Linked DNA regions of Homo sapiens. The protein of the gene in region 1 interacts with the protein of each later gene in a biochemical or structural test. Each region holds a gene or a part of one and is shown on either strand. Other genes may lie near its edges. The genes, in order: GDI2 and RAB2A.

Region 1 (8,841 bases):
GTAAGAGATAATAATATGTTTTTTTTTTAAGCTGCTATTTTTTTTTTCAACTTAAGCCACTAAATTTTGGGGGTGGTTTGTACACTAGAATAGAAAACCAGAATAGATGTGGAAGGAGAGAGAGACAGCAGAACCAAGGATGATATCTAGAATTCTGGTTTGAGCAGAAATAAAGACTGGAAGTAGGGCTGGGTGCTGTGCTCCCACCTGTAATGCCAGCACTCTGGGAGGCTGAGGTGGGCGGATCACTTGAGGCCAGGAGTTCAAGACCAGCCTGGACAACATGGTGAAATCCTGTCTCTACTAAAAATATAAAAATTAGCTGGCCATGGTAGCTGGCGCCTGTAATCCCAGCTACTCGGGAGGCTGAGGCAGAAGAATCACTTGAACCCGGGAAGCGGAGGTTGCAGTGAGCCAAGATCCTGCCATTGCACTCCATCCTGGGCGACAAGAGAAAAACTCTGTCTCAAAAATAAATAAATAAATAAATAAAATAAAGACTGGGAGCAGACAAACAGTTTTTAGGGGATGGTTCTGGGTGAATGATCATAAGCTAGGAAATATATATTTTTGGAACTATATTAAAATTCCTTTCTAGAGATCCCACTATGTTCCCTCTGCAGCATTAGCTATCCAGGTTTTACACAGGTTTATGTTTTATAGATACCTATCTCTAAGACTCTTTAAAATATTAGTTTTAATATCTCTTCCTAGAAGAAAAGTTGTATTTCTCCAAAGTATCAAGAGGAACTGGGGCCTGGCGTGGTGGCTCACACCAGTAACCACAGCACCTACGGAGGTTGTGGTGGGCAGACTGCTTGAGCCCAGGAATTCAAGACTAGTCTGGGCAACAAGGTGACACTCCATCTCTACCAAAAATACAAAAATTAGCTGAGCATGGTGGGCACATGCCTGTACTCCTAGCTACTCAGGAGGCTGCGGAGGGAGGATCACTTCAGCCCGGGAGGCTGAGGCTGCACAGAGCTATGGTTGTGCCACTGCACTCTGGCCTGGGCAACAGAGTGAGACCCTGTCTTAAAAAAGAAAAAAGGAAACTAGTACCAATATCATCATATTCAGTCCTTGTTGATCTAGGGCTCAACTTCCAAGTCCCCTATTCATTTGTCAAATATTTACTCATCCTCTACTAGTTGCTCAGCCCTTTACTGGCTGTCCAGGCTTCATATCCCTGCCCCTATGGAGTTTACATCCAATTTGAAAAGCAAAGAACAAGTGAAGAAAATAATTACCCCCTCTAATAAGAGCAGTGAGAAACAAGCAGGGTACTGATAGAGAATGATGGTTGAGGGGAAAGCTGAGACCTAAGGAAGTGGAAAAAGTTAGCTGTATGAAGAAGTGCAGGGGGAAGTGAGGGGTGGTAGCCATGGAACCAAGAGTACAAAGGCCCTCGGGTGGTTGAAAGCTTGACCAGATTCTAGGAACCGAAACACATGCATGTTTGGGGTTTAATGATCAAGGAGCCAAGGAGCACTAAAAAATAGAGTTGGAGAGACATACAGAGGCTAGATTAAGGTATTAGGTCATATTTAAGGATTTACAATGTATCCCTTTTTTTTTTTTTTTTTTTTTTGAGATGGAGTCTTGCTCTGTCTCCCGGGCTGGAGTGCAGTGGCGCCATCTTGGCTCACTGCAACCTCTGCCTCCCAGGTTCCAGCAATTCTCCTGCCTCAGCCTCCTGAGTAGCTGGAATTACAGATGTGCACCACCACACCAGGCTAATTTTTGTATTTTTAGTAGAGACGGGGTTTCACCATGTTGGTCAGGCTGGTCTCGAACTCCTGACCTCAGGTGATCTGCCTCAGCCTCCCAAAGCACTGGGATTACAGGCGTTAGCCACCATGCCTGGCTAGGATCTACAATGTATTCTAAGTACAAAAGATATACAGAAGCCTGAACATGATCTGATGCGTGTTTTTAGAAGATAATGGACAGAACAGATAGGAGAAGAGGAAAAAGAGAGGGAAAAAAGCCTGTTGAGAAACTGCCACAGTGATGCAGGAGAGAAAAAGATGGTCTGGGCTGAGGTTCGCTCTCATTTTCTTTCCTTAGATTAAATCTCTCCTTTTCAAAGGGCAGATGGATGCTTAGTAAAAACAGATCAGCAAACAATTATTCCCATGTACCCAAGTATAAATAAGACTCCATGGATTCCTGCTTTGCATAAAGGTTTGAAATATTTTATTTTATTTTTTTTTTGAGACGGAGTCTGGCTCTGTCACTCAGGCTGGAGTGTAGTGGCGCGATCTTGGCTGACTGCAACCTCAGCCTCTCGGGTTCCACTGATTCTCCTGCCTGTCTCCCGAGTAGCTGGGACTACAGGCATGTGCCACCACACCTGGCTGATTTCAAGATTTGAAATATTTTAAAGATTGATGGTGTCCTGGTTTGATCTTGGGTTTTGGCACCAAAAAATAAAATTAAAAATAAAGATTGATGTTTACCACTCATCTTCACCAACCAACCTACTTCCCCTAAACCTAAGGTTTCACTGTAGCAGGAACTACCATCTGTGGCATGAGATCAACTCAACCAATTAGTGGCTTTCAAGCCTCTTCACCTTAAGCAGTATTTGTCATCTACAAGTTCCCTTGCAACTGGAATGGGTGGGGTGGAAGATCCAAGAAAAGCACAGAATTTTCTTTTTTTGAGACAGGGTTTTGCTCTGTTGCCCAGGCTAGAGTGCAGTGGCATCATCATGGCTTGACCTTCCTGGGCTCAAGTGATCCTCCCAGCTCAGCCTCCTGAGTAGCCAGGACTGCAGGCTCATGCCACCATGCCCAGCTGATTTTTTTTTTGAGACTGAGTCTCGCTTTGTCACCCAAGCTGGAGTGCAGTGGCACGATCTTGGCTCACTGCAACCTCTGCCTCCTGGGTTCAAGCAATTCTCTGCCTCAGACTCCTGAGTAGCTGGGATTACAGACGCCTGACACCACGCCCAACTAATTTTTGTAGTTTTCGTAGAGACGGGGTTTCACCATCTTGGGACGGGTTGGTCTTGAACTCCTGACCTCGTGATTCACCCGCCTTGGCCTCCCAAAGTGCTGGGATTACAAGCGTGAGCCACTGCACCCAGCCTGCCCAGTTTTTTTTTTTTTTTTTTTGAGACGGAGTCTCACTCTGTTGCCCAGGCGGGAGTGGAGTGGCGCGATCTCGGCTCACTTCAGCCTCCGTCTCCCGGGTTCAAGCGATTGCTCTGCCTCAGCTTCCCGGGTAGCTGGGACTACAGGCACGTGCCACCATGCCCGGCTAATTTTTGTATTTTTAGTAGAGATGGGGTTTCACCATATTGGCCAGGCTGGTCTCAAACTCCAAACTCCTGACCTTGTGATCCGCCTACCTCAGCCTCCCAAAGTGCTGGGATTACAGGCATCAATCACCGTGCCCGGCCTCCAGCTAATTTTTTTTATAGGGACAGTGTCTCTGTTACCTAGGCTCTACAGCACAGGCTGGTCCCAAGTGATTCTCCCATCTCCCACTCCTGGCCCCAAGTGATCCTCCCATCTCAGCCTCCCAAAGTGTTAGGATTACAGGTGTGAAGCACTGTGCCTGGCTCAGGTACAACATTTTAGATGCACTCAGTCCGTTAAGGCTTAGTCCAGGTTTGATTGTTATTGTCCTTCTGTTGGGCCATAGGGCCTGTACTGTGAACTAAAATGAACTTCAGTGTTAAGTAAGGAAGGGATCCTTATTAGCCTTAAATTCAATTCCCTTATCTCAGTGTCTTCAAGTTTCTCACAACTCTTGAGTATCGATAAAATAGTCTTCACCTAAAACATGGTTAACATAATTCAGTTGACATGCTTAAATTTCTCTTCAAGAGCCAGAGGCTGATGGCAATTGTGAAAAAAGCTCTTTATTGTTATTGCTAATAAAAAAAAAAGGGCCAATAGTCAGGTGTGGTGGCCTGTACCTCTTGTCCCTGCTACTGGGGAGACTGAGGTGGGAGGATGGCTTGAGCCCAGGAGATCAAGGCTGCAGTGAGGCATGATTACACCGCTGCACTCCAGCCTGGACGACAGGGTGAGATTGTCTCAGAAAAATAAAGAAAAAGGGTTATTTCATATTGGTTCAAAAATATAGGTAGTATGACCCCCTGATGACTTGAAGACAGAGCAACAGAAGGACCTTCTTTAGTCATCATTAGCTTAGCCAAAAGAAAAGTCAGTTACACTCACTGTTGCATAATCAGTTGTATGGTCAACTGTGCACTAATTCATTTGGTCACAAATATATACAATCAAATTAAGGTTGAATGTAAATTTAAACTTTACTTTTGCTTTCTTCTCCCCTCCCCCCCAGAAAGATCCATGGTCCAATATAACATATCTTCTTCAAGTATTTATGGGGTAAGAAACATTTTAAAAAGTTGTTACATTCTTTCCTCTATCTTAATGATTTAAATATGAGCAAGTTCGGTCTATCAAGGCAGGCTCTGAATAGCTACTATCGAGAAGTATTTGAGGAGTTCTTGAATGCCAAATCTTCATTGTCTGCTGACTCTGCAGATTTATCACGTGCTGAAAGCACAGGTTTTCCAACTGTCAACGTCTTTACGAAATTCACCTGCTTAGGCTTTCGTGGGGTCGGCCTCTTGGAGCTGAGAACACAGCTTCTGCTTACACCTGTGTCCTCAATGAAGCCAGAGATTCCTAAGAGAATTCTAGAAAAAGAGGAGCGGGGTAGAAGGCAAGCAAGGAACAGTTTCTAAGCTTAGGGCCTAAACCTTTGCATACAAGGATCAGCTACCACGTTTACAGCGGCTTTAAGTTACAGCCCTCGGTAGGTGCAGATCGGCTTCCCAATGAAACCTGGCTTTCACTTTCATCTCTGTTAAGGGTTACCTTTTCAAAAGAAGCCGCTTTTCCTCCTACCAATTTCCTAAAGCGCCCACCGGCAACGCACTAAACAAGGAGGGCACAGAGCGGGAAAAAGGACACGTGTGATTTCCGAACTCTTCCCGGCGGGCTCCGGGCCCCGGCAAGCCCAGCCCCGCGGGAGGAACCAAGGCCGCCACCCCCGAGAGGCAGCCCGGCCCGCGCTCCTCGCCCACGTGGCCGCCGCACGCGCCCGCTCAAAGTCCAAGGGCGGCGATCCGGCTCTGGGACCTTGGACCGAGCGAGCTCCCGCCCCGACGGCGGGAGTCAGAACGGTGGTGGCCAGCAGTCCCCGCCCGCGGCTCCGTGCACCTCCACCCCGGCCCGCGCGCCGCCTCCCGAACCACCGTGGCAGAGGCCGCAAGGGGAACCGGAAGCCAAAATGGCGACGCCCCGCCCTTTTCCTCTCGCGAGAGGCGGGGAAGGAAAAAAAGTTGTGCGAGCGACGGGGACGTAACCAATTAGAGTGCCGGGAGCGCCTGATTGGCGGCCCTCCCGGCGCCTGCAGGCCCCGCCCCGGCTGCGGAGGCTCAGTCACAGCCCTCCCCTCCTCGCTCCCTCCCCTCCTCTCCCCGCCCAGTTCTTCTCTTCCCGTCTGAGGTGGCGGTCGGTCTCGCCTTGTCGCCAGCTCCATTTTCCTCTCTTTCTCTTCCCCTTTCCTTCGCGCCCAAGAGCGCCTCCCAGCCTCGTAGGGTGGTCACGGAGCCCCTGCGCCTTTTCCTTGCTCGGGTCCTGCGTCCGCGCCTGCCCCGCCATGAATGAGGAGTACGACGTGATCGTGCTGGGCACCGGCCTGACGGTGGGCGCCAGGGCTGAGGGGCCGGGGCTGAGCAGCCGGGGCGGGCGCACCCCCGGCTCCTGCACGGCCCGCGGGTCGCAGCTCCTCGGGGGTCTCGTTCTGCCGTCAGCCGTAGTTTTCGGGACGGGAGTCGTGGCTAGGGGCGCGGGCGGGTTCAGGGGCGCCCCGCGTCCCGGGGCGAGCGGGCGGCTCCCAGTGTGAGGGGCAGGCGGGGAAATGGAGATGCGGGCCGTGAGGCTCGGGGCGGGGTGACGGCCGAGCCCGGCCTCTGCGCTTGCCCCCAGCGGAAGCGGAGGGGAGGGGAGAAGGCCGCCCGGGCCAAGGGTCCCGCTCCCCGGTTTGGGCCGGTGACCTCGCCCGGTTGGAAACCAGCACCCGAGGCGGAGGGGACGGTGCAGGCCTCGCGGTTGCATTTCCTATTCCGCCTCGGCCGCTGCCCCGGGTCAGTCTGGCTGCCAAAGCCGAGTACGGGGTTTCCTGACAAGTCTTGGATAATCACTGCTTCGGAACTGCTAGGGCTTGATTAACTTATATTTTTGGCGAAAACGTGGAAATTAGTCTTTTAATCCTTTCTCCCCCCTGCTAATGAGAAGTATTATTGAATCCTTTTAGCCACCCTCCCTTCTCACTTACTGAGCATCTGTAGAATTGGAATTGAGTTTTTTCAAAACTTGTCCGTCAAATGCTTTCGCACCTGACCTTCGCCGCCTTTTCCTTTTGTTTGGTGGGTTCTCTGCCTCCTTTGTCTCTTCTGGACTGTTTTCCCCTAAGAATTGGGTTGGTGATGGATTGCTAAAAGCCAAGTTCTCTGTACTCCGAAGCTTTCTTCAGGGAGTTGGAAGATAATAACATGAAGAATGCATTGTAATATATGAATGCAAGGTGTACCTAATATCATGGTATATTGATTTTCCTGGTTATCTGTTTCTAAGGGAACTTTAGGTAATCTGTAGATAACGCAGGCAGGTTCTGTAGTTTGTACTTTTTCTGTTCTTTTTTTTTTTTTTTTAAATGTTCATCTTGCAAAAGAATTCACTTTGGAGAAAACCATTTTAACTATCAATTTTTGGGGAAATTTGAAATTCTAACTTTGGGCTGCTTGATCATAATTAAGATGAATACTGATGTAAATCTTGTGTATCCTATGTACTCTGACTTCAAATTCCTGAGTCATTTAATGTAGACTTCCACTTCAAATTTTTTGAAATTTATTATAATCTCTCAGGGTCAAACCAATTTTTTTTTTTTTTTTTACAGGTAACATCCCAAAATAACACTTTTAGATGTCTCTAGGCAAGAGAAAACCTTCGAACTTTTATTTGGCTAATTTTTTAGGAAAGGTTTGTGAAGAATTAGAATCGTGTTTTTCTGGTCTGTCATTTTTCTGTTTATAGTTATATGCAATTATTAGAGAATATTCATTCTGAATACTTCGTTATGTTTGACCAATCCAGGAATAATCCTGTGTCTGTCTTTGAAAAGCTGGAAGACTGTTGGATGCCTAAATGAATAGGCCCTACCCACTGCAGGTTTTGTGCTTTTTTTTTTTTTTTTTTAAGTGCCTAATTGGGATTCCAAGCTGAGCTTAGTAGTTTGTGGTGGATTTTGCCTGTTGGAATGGGTAGTGTTGCTGCCAGCGTGTTTTAAGAGCCGGTTAGTTCCACCGTTTTTCTATGGTTGTTGCTGGTCTTTCAGATTTGCTCACAATTGAGGTCAGTTAAGCATGCACGAGTGAGTGCAAATCCACCATCATGCAGGCTTCCACAAGCCTCGTTCACATCACTTTGTATCAAAGATGGTGAAAGTGTTTTTATATAACAAGTTAAGATAATGAGCTTTGTTTAAATTTTCATTCGGATTGTGAACTCTTTGATGAATGGTAGATGCATACTTAACTAGAAATCAGACCTGTTTCTGCTGTCATTTTGTAGCTGTGATAACTTTAATCTCTGTGAGCCTTCCTAAGTTTTCTGAGATGTTCTTTGATAATTATATCAATTCAGGACAATCACATTATTACCATCATTGATAGGAGTAGTGATGACAGGATGATTTTGATAATGAGAAATCATATATCCTTATTTTTAGTGTTACCAGGAATTAGATGATTAAAAATTAGAAGAAGAGAAAACCAAAGTTAGCACTCAGAATTAACTTTTGAATGTCTGGAGTTAATTAATTTTCTTAAAATTTACTTTAGTGCCTGAGACTTAAGAACCTAAAAAAAGGCAAGTACTTTCAGTGTTAGGAACTTGTTACTTTTAAAGAAGTGTAAGGAAGTGCTGGAGTTGCTGTGTTGCTTAGTGCTGCCATTGTTTGTATGAGTTGTTAAGTCTAAGCTCATAATCACAAATATTGATAGTTATCTTAATCAAGAAGATACAAAACGATTTGGTATAAAGGAGTAAAATCTTCATTCTGTGTGTAAAAGAAATGGAATATTCCACACAATTGAATTTTCTGAGGAACTAAAGGTTATCTCTAAAGAGCACAGCTTTTGGATAATGCCTTTCTAAATGCTGTCACAACTTCTTTAACAAACTAAGAAACATAATTTACTTGATAACCAAGTTTTCACATAGTGAAGATTAACTATTGTGTTATGCTGTAACATGGTGAAGCCATGAAGACCCCGCCAGCTTTGTAGGAACTTTTGCCCCCTTTACTCTCAGGCTGCTATGCTTTTTGAGCTCTTCAGTTTACTCTTCATATTTTTTCCCTCTATCTTACTTTACTGTTAGGCTGGCAACATTTACTTTTCTCTGCTTTCAGCATGTGTAGGCAGCCTCTCACCACATAATTTGCACATAGTTCACTATGGACTTGGAAATAAATTCACGAGTCTTGTTAGACATAGTAGATTAAAACAATAAGAGTAACTAGTTCCACAGCTGTTTGTGCTTCCCAGAGGTTTTTTTCTTCCCATTTTTTGTTCTACACAGTAAGAATTTATGAATAGAAATATATACTTTAGTGATGTATACCAGATGATTCTCAGCATCATATGTTTAAAAACTTGCTTTACATCCCAGATACTTTTCCTCATTTCTCTTTATCAGAATTTTGTGATTTCAGATTCAGAGAAGGTTTTATACTTGATTTTAAAATTCTGAACTAAAATTCAGATTGCCTCTTGGATTTGCTTAA
Region 2 (7,614 bases), on another chromosome or scaffold:
GTCTACAGTATTTCAACAGTAGTTTTTTATTTTGACAATTTAATGGCAAAGAAGTTGAGCCGTCTTTTCTCTCTTTATCGTAAGCGTCCTTTGATTTTGCTTTCTTAAACTATATACTAAATAATACATTATCATGGCAAAAAAGGCCCTGAGTGGAACTGTATTATCCAGAAGTAAGCTAGTTTTTACATGGAGGATTATGCAGTTTACATAATTGAAATGTGTTTTTCTCTGTGTGCTGTTCTCATATTCCAATATTCTTTTTTCCTCTCATGGTCATGATGTTTTCTTTTGAGATATAATTCACATACCATAAAATTGATGCTTTTAAACTATACAATTCGTTAGCTGGGTGTGGCAGCACACACCTGTAGTCCCAGCTACTCAGGAGGCTGAAGTGAGAGGATCACTTGAACTGGGAGGCAGAGGTTGCAGTGAACCGAGATTGCGCCGCTGCACTCCATCCTAGGCGACAGGGTGAGCCCCTGTCTCAAAAATAAATAAATAAACAATTCAGTGGTTTTTAGTCTATTCACAAAGTTACACAACCATCACCACTATCTAATTCCAGAACATTTTAGTTACCCCAAAAAGAAACCTCATACTCATTAGCATTCTCTCCCCTTTTTCTCTTCCATCTAGCTTCTGGCAACCAGTAATCTACTTTCTGTCTCCATGGATTTGCCTATTCTAGACATTTCGTACAAATGGAGTTGTAGTATTGTGGCGTTTTGTGTCTGCCTTCTTTCATTTAGCACAGTGTTTTCAAGGTTCATCCACATTGTAGCATGAATCAGTACTTCATTCCTTTTTATGGCCAAATAATATTCTACTAATTGAATATCTCAAATTTTGTTTTTTATTGACTGAACATTTCTGTAGTTTGCACTTGTTGGCTGTTGTGAATAATGCTGTTTGTAATGCTAATTAGCATGTGCGTACATCCTTTGTTCTTAATCTTAGGGGAAAGGCTTTCAGCCTTCATCTTCGAATATGATGTTAGATGTAGTTTTTCTTAGATGCCATTCTTTAGATCAGGTTGAGGAGTTCCCTTCTATTTCGACTTGAGTGTTTTTATCATGAAATGTTGGATTTTGTCAAATGCTTTTTCTATGTCTATTGATGATCATGAGGGCTTGTTTATTAATATAATGTATTACATCGATTGTTCTTTATTAATATGTTATTAATATCTTTGTTCTTTATTAATATGTATTACGTCGATTGACTTTCATATGTTGAATGTTATGATATTCTATAGAGCATATATAATGTTATTTTACTGCTTTGGTTTTATATAATATGAACCAATTTCTCTATATTTCAGGCATTTATTAATACAGCAAAAGAAATTTATGAAAAAATTCAAGAAGGAGTCTTTGACATTAATAATGAGGTATATACATATAAATATTGTTGGTCAATATTAATTTAGAGTTCACTTTTGATTACTATTTTATATTTTTTATTTTATAATTCATTATTTTATAATTTTTTTAATTCCTAAAATCAATCATGATAATCAGTTAACACCATTAGTTTACAGTCATCCAACTGAAAAATTGGTATATGTGGTATAGTAGTTAAATATTTATGTTCTAGTAGAGCAACACTTTGTCTATGGAAATGGATTAAAGTAAGTGGCCCTATCCATTCATTGCAAGCAATGCAAAATAATATAAATCCCCCAAAGAGAAAAGAAAATCCACTTTTATCCACATGACCATATGGTGTCATCTGCTTTGGGAATAATGTTCTGGTATATAAATGCATGTACTATGTACTAATGCAAGATGCTCTCTCTGTTATCTGGCAGGAAAGAGGGAAATACCAAATTTGGAAATTACTCCCAATATAGCATAGCATGTTTTCAGGAGACTAAATTCATATATATATATATAAAATTGGCATTTGGCATAGGGTTTTTTGTAATGTTATTTTGATCCTGTTTTGGTCAACATGATTAGGATAAAATGTAAAGCTTTGAAGCATCTAATTCAGAGTGTTCACCAAAGATCATCACTTGACCCACATCCCCACTCTGCATTTATCTGTATTTATTTCAAAATGTTTATGTGGATGTAGCCTACTTATTCTTACATAAATATTTTTGCCATTCTGTATTAAGATTTCTGGCTTCTGAAAGAAAAGCCCTGGTTTCTCCCCAGTTGCAGTTAGAAAAGCATTGTGTTAGGAAGCCATTATGTATGTCTCTCTCATCCTATACATAAATGAGGCTCTCTATTACTTCAGTAGTCTCTGCTCAGACAAACAGCAGTTTACCTAAGGTTTCCAAAAAGTACATGATTTTTTCATTGTTTAATTTGGAGTAATATAGTTTCTAAATCCTATCTTCTAGGCTTATATGACGGTACTTCTTGAGTTAGTTTAAAGGTGACACCATTCAGAGACTAATGCCATATAAATTGAACAGTAATTGGGCCTCTATCTAAAAGGGCACATTCATTGTTTCTGTCTGGTTTCATATAGTAGCTGACTGCTTTACTGTGCCTTATGCAGCTTTGATTGTAATGTGCTGTTGGGAGCCAACAGGCCGTGCTATTTATTTGGCCTAATGCCAAGTCTGACTCCTTGACTCCTCAAGAAGTTGCTACCAGCCCAGAGGGGGCAAAATCAATGAGCCATAGGGCATGCTTTTTATTAAAGAGGAGTCAAAAGAGCGAAAAGAAACCACATCAGCTGCTGTCAATACTGAGCTAGTGCCAGAAACCCCAAGGCTACTACTGTTGCAGAACAACTGCCAAGCACTATAAATCTGAGATTTACTGTGACGTAAAGTTTCCTTAAGAGCTTAATTTCTGAAGCTACTGTATTACTTTTCTCAAAGTGTTGTATTTTTAGGTAAAATCCACTTGAGGGAGTGAGGGTTAAGACATAAGTGTGAGTTTGATGAATGAAAGAACTACTCTGTGTGTGGGTTCTTGGCAAGCTGCCATGTCTTTGGGGATCATAGAAATTATTGATGACACAGAACACTCATATGCCCTTAGCCTGTACAGCTGATTCAACATGGAACAGAAACACTGTCTAGAGAAAAGATTTTACGTTGTATTAAAGCAGCATGGGCTTTGGGTATTTTTATGCTTTAAAGATTACTTGCAATAATTATTTTAAATGATTTCTGCATTATGAGAATTTCCTGAAAAGCAGCATTATCCAATAACTGTTTACCCCGTACCTGGTATGATAAAGAATTATTTTCAGAAACATTTCCACAGTGTTTTTAAAAGGAAGGAACATCCCTTAGGAGATATTGTTTTAATTGTTGCTAAAATCTACTTGCTGTATTTTTCTCAGTTGTTTGATAAAATTGTATCATAAAGAATTAAATGAGTTTTTTAAGAATTAGTTAAACTATATTGTCTGGTCATATTTATTGTTCTGTTCTCTTTTATTTCAGGCAAATGGCATTAAAATTGGCCCTCAGCATGCTGCTACCAATGCAACACATGCAGGCAATCAGGGAGGACAGCAGGCTGGGGGCGGCTGCTGTTGAGTCTGTTTTTACTGTCTAGCTGCCCAACGGGGCCTACTCACTTATTCTTTCACCCCCTCTCCTCCTGCTCAGCTGAGACATGAAACTATTTGAAATGGCTTTATGTCACAGAAGACTTTAATCCGTCAAATTCTTGTATAACTTTGAATAAATGGTTAATGTTCACTTAAAAGACAGATTTTGGAGATTGTATTCATATCTATTTGCATTTGATTTCTAGGTCAATTGATGTGATTATTTTTGTTAAATGTTGTCTTGTGCCCTTAACTACGAACTGAATTGTATTAAACACTACAAAGTCATCTTGAGTATTTTAAATCGGTTTGTGTAGTTAGGTTTCCCAACATCTGTGGTTACCTAATGTTTAATATTATAGAACTGTCCTCAGAAACTTTGTCAATTTTCACGGCTATAAGGAAACAGAAGGACTCTTTTAATTCTGTATTTATCATTTACTTTCTGTATATATAGTTTAATAACCTGCTTGGGTGTAATTTGCCAAGCTTGAATTCTTTAATGCATTTGCATAAATTCTATACTGTTTAGAGCTTAAAGCTACAGAAGCATTGTTAGGAATTGCTTGGACACTGAATTTTAAACTTTTTGACATTGTTAACAAGCATGTTCATCTTTTCTTGTCACTAGTCCAAGAAAAATATGCTTAATGTATATTACAAAGGCTTTGTATATGTTAACCTGTTTTAATGCCAAAAGTTTGCTTTGTCCACAATTTCCTTAAGACCTCTTCAGAAAGGGATTTGTTTGCCTTAATGAATACTGTTGGGAAAAAACACAGTATAATGAGTGAAAAGGGCAGAAGCAAGAAATTTCTACATCTTAGCGACTCCAAGAAGAATGAGTATCCACATTTAGATGGCACATTATGAGGACTTTAATCTTTCCTTAAACACAATAATGTTTTCTTTTTTCTTTTATTCACATGATTTCTAAGTATATTTTTCATGCAGGACAGTTTTTCAACCTTGATGTACAGTGACTGTGTAAAATTTTTCTTTCAGTGGCAACCTCTATAATCTTTAAAATATGGTGAGCATCTTGTCTGTTTTGAAGGGGATATGACAATAAATCTATCAGATGGAAAATCCTGTTACAAAGTAGAAAAGCTTTAGTAATTTACTCAGTGTGGTGGTTTTATCCTTTTTTTCTTTTTCTCCCTTGGTCTATAATGAAATTGTTACAGCAGTGCAAAATAAAATCCTATGTATAAAAGTGTTCTTTTTTTTTATTATGACCACCTCTTTTTTAATGTATTTTTAGTCCACTTACAGCTTTTACATGGGTTTAAGCATGTTTTTTAAAAGGGTCAGAATGGTTAACACTCAACCCTTTTTAAAAATTTTGCTAAAATGCGACAAATCTCACCATACTGAAATTATTTTTGTTGATGGTGTAAGCAGTGTAAGCAAGTGTTTTCTCCTGAACTAGCACAAAAGCACTTATGCCTGAAAGAAAGCATAAAGAAGTTCTAACTCTGAAACTAACTACTTTCATTTCGCTCATGGCCTTCAACTTTCTACAGGTCTTCCCTGAAGATTCAGCAGTACTCTCTCAAAGGTTTGACAGTACTCTTGTGGGAAATCACCAAATGCTGTCATAGTTTTGTTTTAACTGTCTCCTTGAGGGCAGAGGGAAGGGTGAGAGAAAATCTGTTTTCATGGGTATTTGTAGTACAGCCTTTTTTTCTTTCAAGTGGCTGTATCAAATTCACTGGTCTTACTAATCACTGTCTTTACCAGTGAGTACAAAAAGTTAAGGCAACTAGGACAGGTACTGCTCTATACCAAGAAGAGAATGATTCTTTGGAAATTGTTATTTTTAAGCTTCTGTTAATTTTTCCAGAAGTTTAGTGCGTTTCTTTTCCATACTTTCTCCCCTAATTCTTTTATTTGAAGAAGAGAACTTAATGGCAAATAAACAACAAACCAGGACATGCATTTTAATACCCTAAGGAAAAATGGAACCCTCAAATATAACTCCTCCCACAACCACCCTAATGTGCCTCAGTCTGGGGCAGCAGGTGGACTTCTCAATAGTTCTTTTCCACATTCTCTACAAATCACATCTACCGTTAAGGAATATGTTATGAATCCTTTCTGTTAATTGAGAAAGCAATGTTATTGTCTGTGATTTCCAGTCTTTGCTCATTTTATTATCCCTGTCAAATAATGTAATATTGGTACCTGCAGTTGAATTTGTAATATTGTAATTGAATTTTTAGTTGATCTTCGATCAGTTTTTATAGCATCTATGGACATAGAAAATCAGTCACTGAAAAAAATAAACACAGCTTTCAATGTCTCACTCAACATGTAACATTCAAAATTGTGATCTTCATAAAGACATTGTTACCATTCGTCTTGCAAATTTAAGACAACTGAATGAAAAGCCAATTTTTTGAAAGAATGTGGCATATAATTAGATATACAACTGAAACAGGATATACAACTGCATACAATTTGTTTTTAATGATATTTTAAAATAGCCTGTTAGCAGGAAAATAGTCCCTATTTATCTGCTAATGGTCAAAAAGAGTTAGGATATAAATCGTACCAAAATGTTTCCAATCACTCAGAAAAACTGATTCATGTCTGGCTTTGCAACACCTTAAACATTTATTCTGTCATAGATAGTAAAGCCCCATCTCAGTTTATTTAGTCCTGAGGTTGGCAGCATGGGGTTTGACTATATGAGCTAAAAGATACACAAAGAGATAACGCTGTTTCATAATAAACAGGAATTGACTATACAAATAGGTAAACCAGCATATCTACCTGTATTTCTCAGAGTTTAGATGTGTGCTTTATGTTTACATTAAAATAAAGCCTAACGCCACAGTAGATCATCTCATACTGCATTCGGATGTACTAGGTATTATTATTTTTTGGTTGAAGTCACGACAGAGAACTTCATTTTATTTATTTTGTTTATTTTGGGAGACAGGTCTCACTCTAATCCCCCAGGCTGGAGTGCAGTGGCGCCGTCTTGGCTCACTGTGACCTCCACCTCCCCAGGTTCAAGTGATTCTCATGCCTCAGCCTCCCAAGTAGCTGGGATTAGAGGTCCCTGCCACCACGCCCGGCTACTTTGTATTTTTAGTAGAGACGGGGTTTTGCCATGTTGGCCAGGCTGGTCTCAGACTCCTGACCTTAGGTCATCTGCCCACCTCAGCCTCCCAAAGTGCTGGGGTTACAGGTGTGAGCCACCATGCCTGGCCAAAAACTAAGTGCCAGTCTATATATTAGTATTAATTAGTTTTACAAAATTATGAGGCCAATTCTTAAACATTGAAGGACAAAGCACCAAACTCCTGATAGAAAAATGGAGGAAAATGAGCAATTTACAAAAAACATACAAAGTGTCCCTAAAATGCATTTTTAATTCAAATGTGAGTGATGGATACATTAATTTGCTTCACTCTAGTAACCTTCTATTTATGTGTATCCCATAACAGGTATACTTTTAAACACAATAAAATTTATTTTTAAAAATTCAAACAAATGCAAATTAAAGCTCAGATGCCATTTCTCACCTATGAGACTGGAAGAAATGTAAAATACAACGCCACATTGTATTGGTGAGGCACCTTTGTGTGGTGTTGGTAGAAGTGCAAACTGGAACTACCTTTCTGGAGGGGAACTTGGCAATACCTAATAAAATTACATGTACACTTGCTGTTGGCCCAGAAATCCCACTTGTAGGAATCCGCCCAAATGATAATTCTCCAATAAAGCAAAAGCTCCATATGCACAAGGTTACTTTCTGCAGCATTGGTTGTAATTAGAAATTATTGGAAATGACTTATATGTCATTTCCACTTATAGTGATTCAATAAACTATAGTGATTCACTAAACTGTGTCCATCCACACAGTGGAGTCCTACACAGCTATAAAGAAGGGTGAGGAAGAAGATCTCCAGAATACACCAGAAACTAGTTACAAACACTGGGTGGGTACAGGATGGAAAGTAAGAAGACTGGGAATAGGATAGTTGGGACAAGAGGAGAATGTTGCTGCTTTCAGTATACATTTTTTGTATAGCTCTGACTCAACTATGGTTATGTTTCACATAACCCAAA

What was found.
Region 2: the proteins of GDI2 (region 1) and RAB2A form a complex in vitro, tested with the Homo sapiens proteins (one study listed by BioGRID).

What each region holds. Positions count from the first base shown.
Region 1 is NC_000010.11:5,810,067-5,818,907, reverse strand, and holds the start of GDI2 (rab GDP dissociation inhibitor beta), read left to right. Parts: upstream 1-5,473; 5' UTR 5,474-5,649; coding exon 5,650-5,694; intron 5,695-5,710; exon of another isoform or gene 5,711-6,593; intron 6,594-6,951; exon of another isoform or gene 6,952-8,841. UniProt on the Homo sapiens protein: GDP-dissociation inhibitor preventing the GDP to GTP exchange of most Rab proteins. By keeping these small GTPases in their inactive GDP-bound form regulates intracellular membrane trafficking.
Region 2 is NC_000008.11:60,617,253-60,624,866, forward strand, and holds the end of RAB2A (ras-related protein Rab-2A), read left to right. Parts: intron 1-1,327; coding exon 1,328-1,396; intron 1,397-3,421; coding exon 3,422-3,517; 3' UTR 3,518-6,392; downstream 6,393-7,614.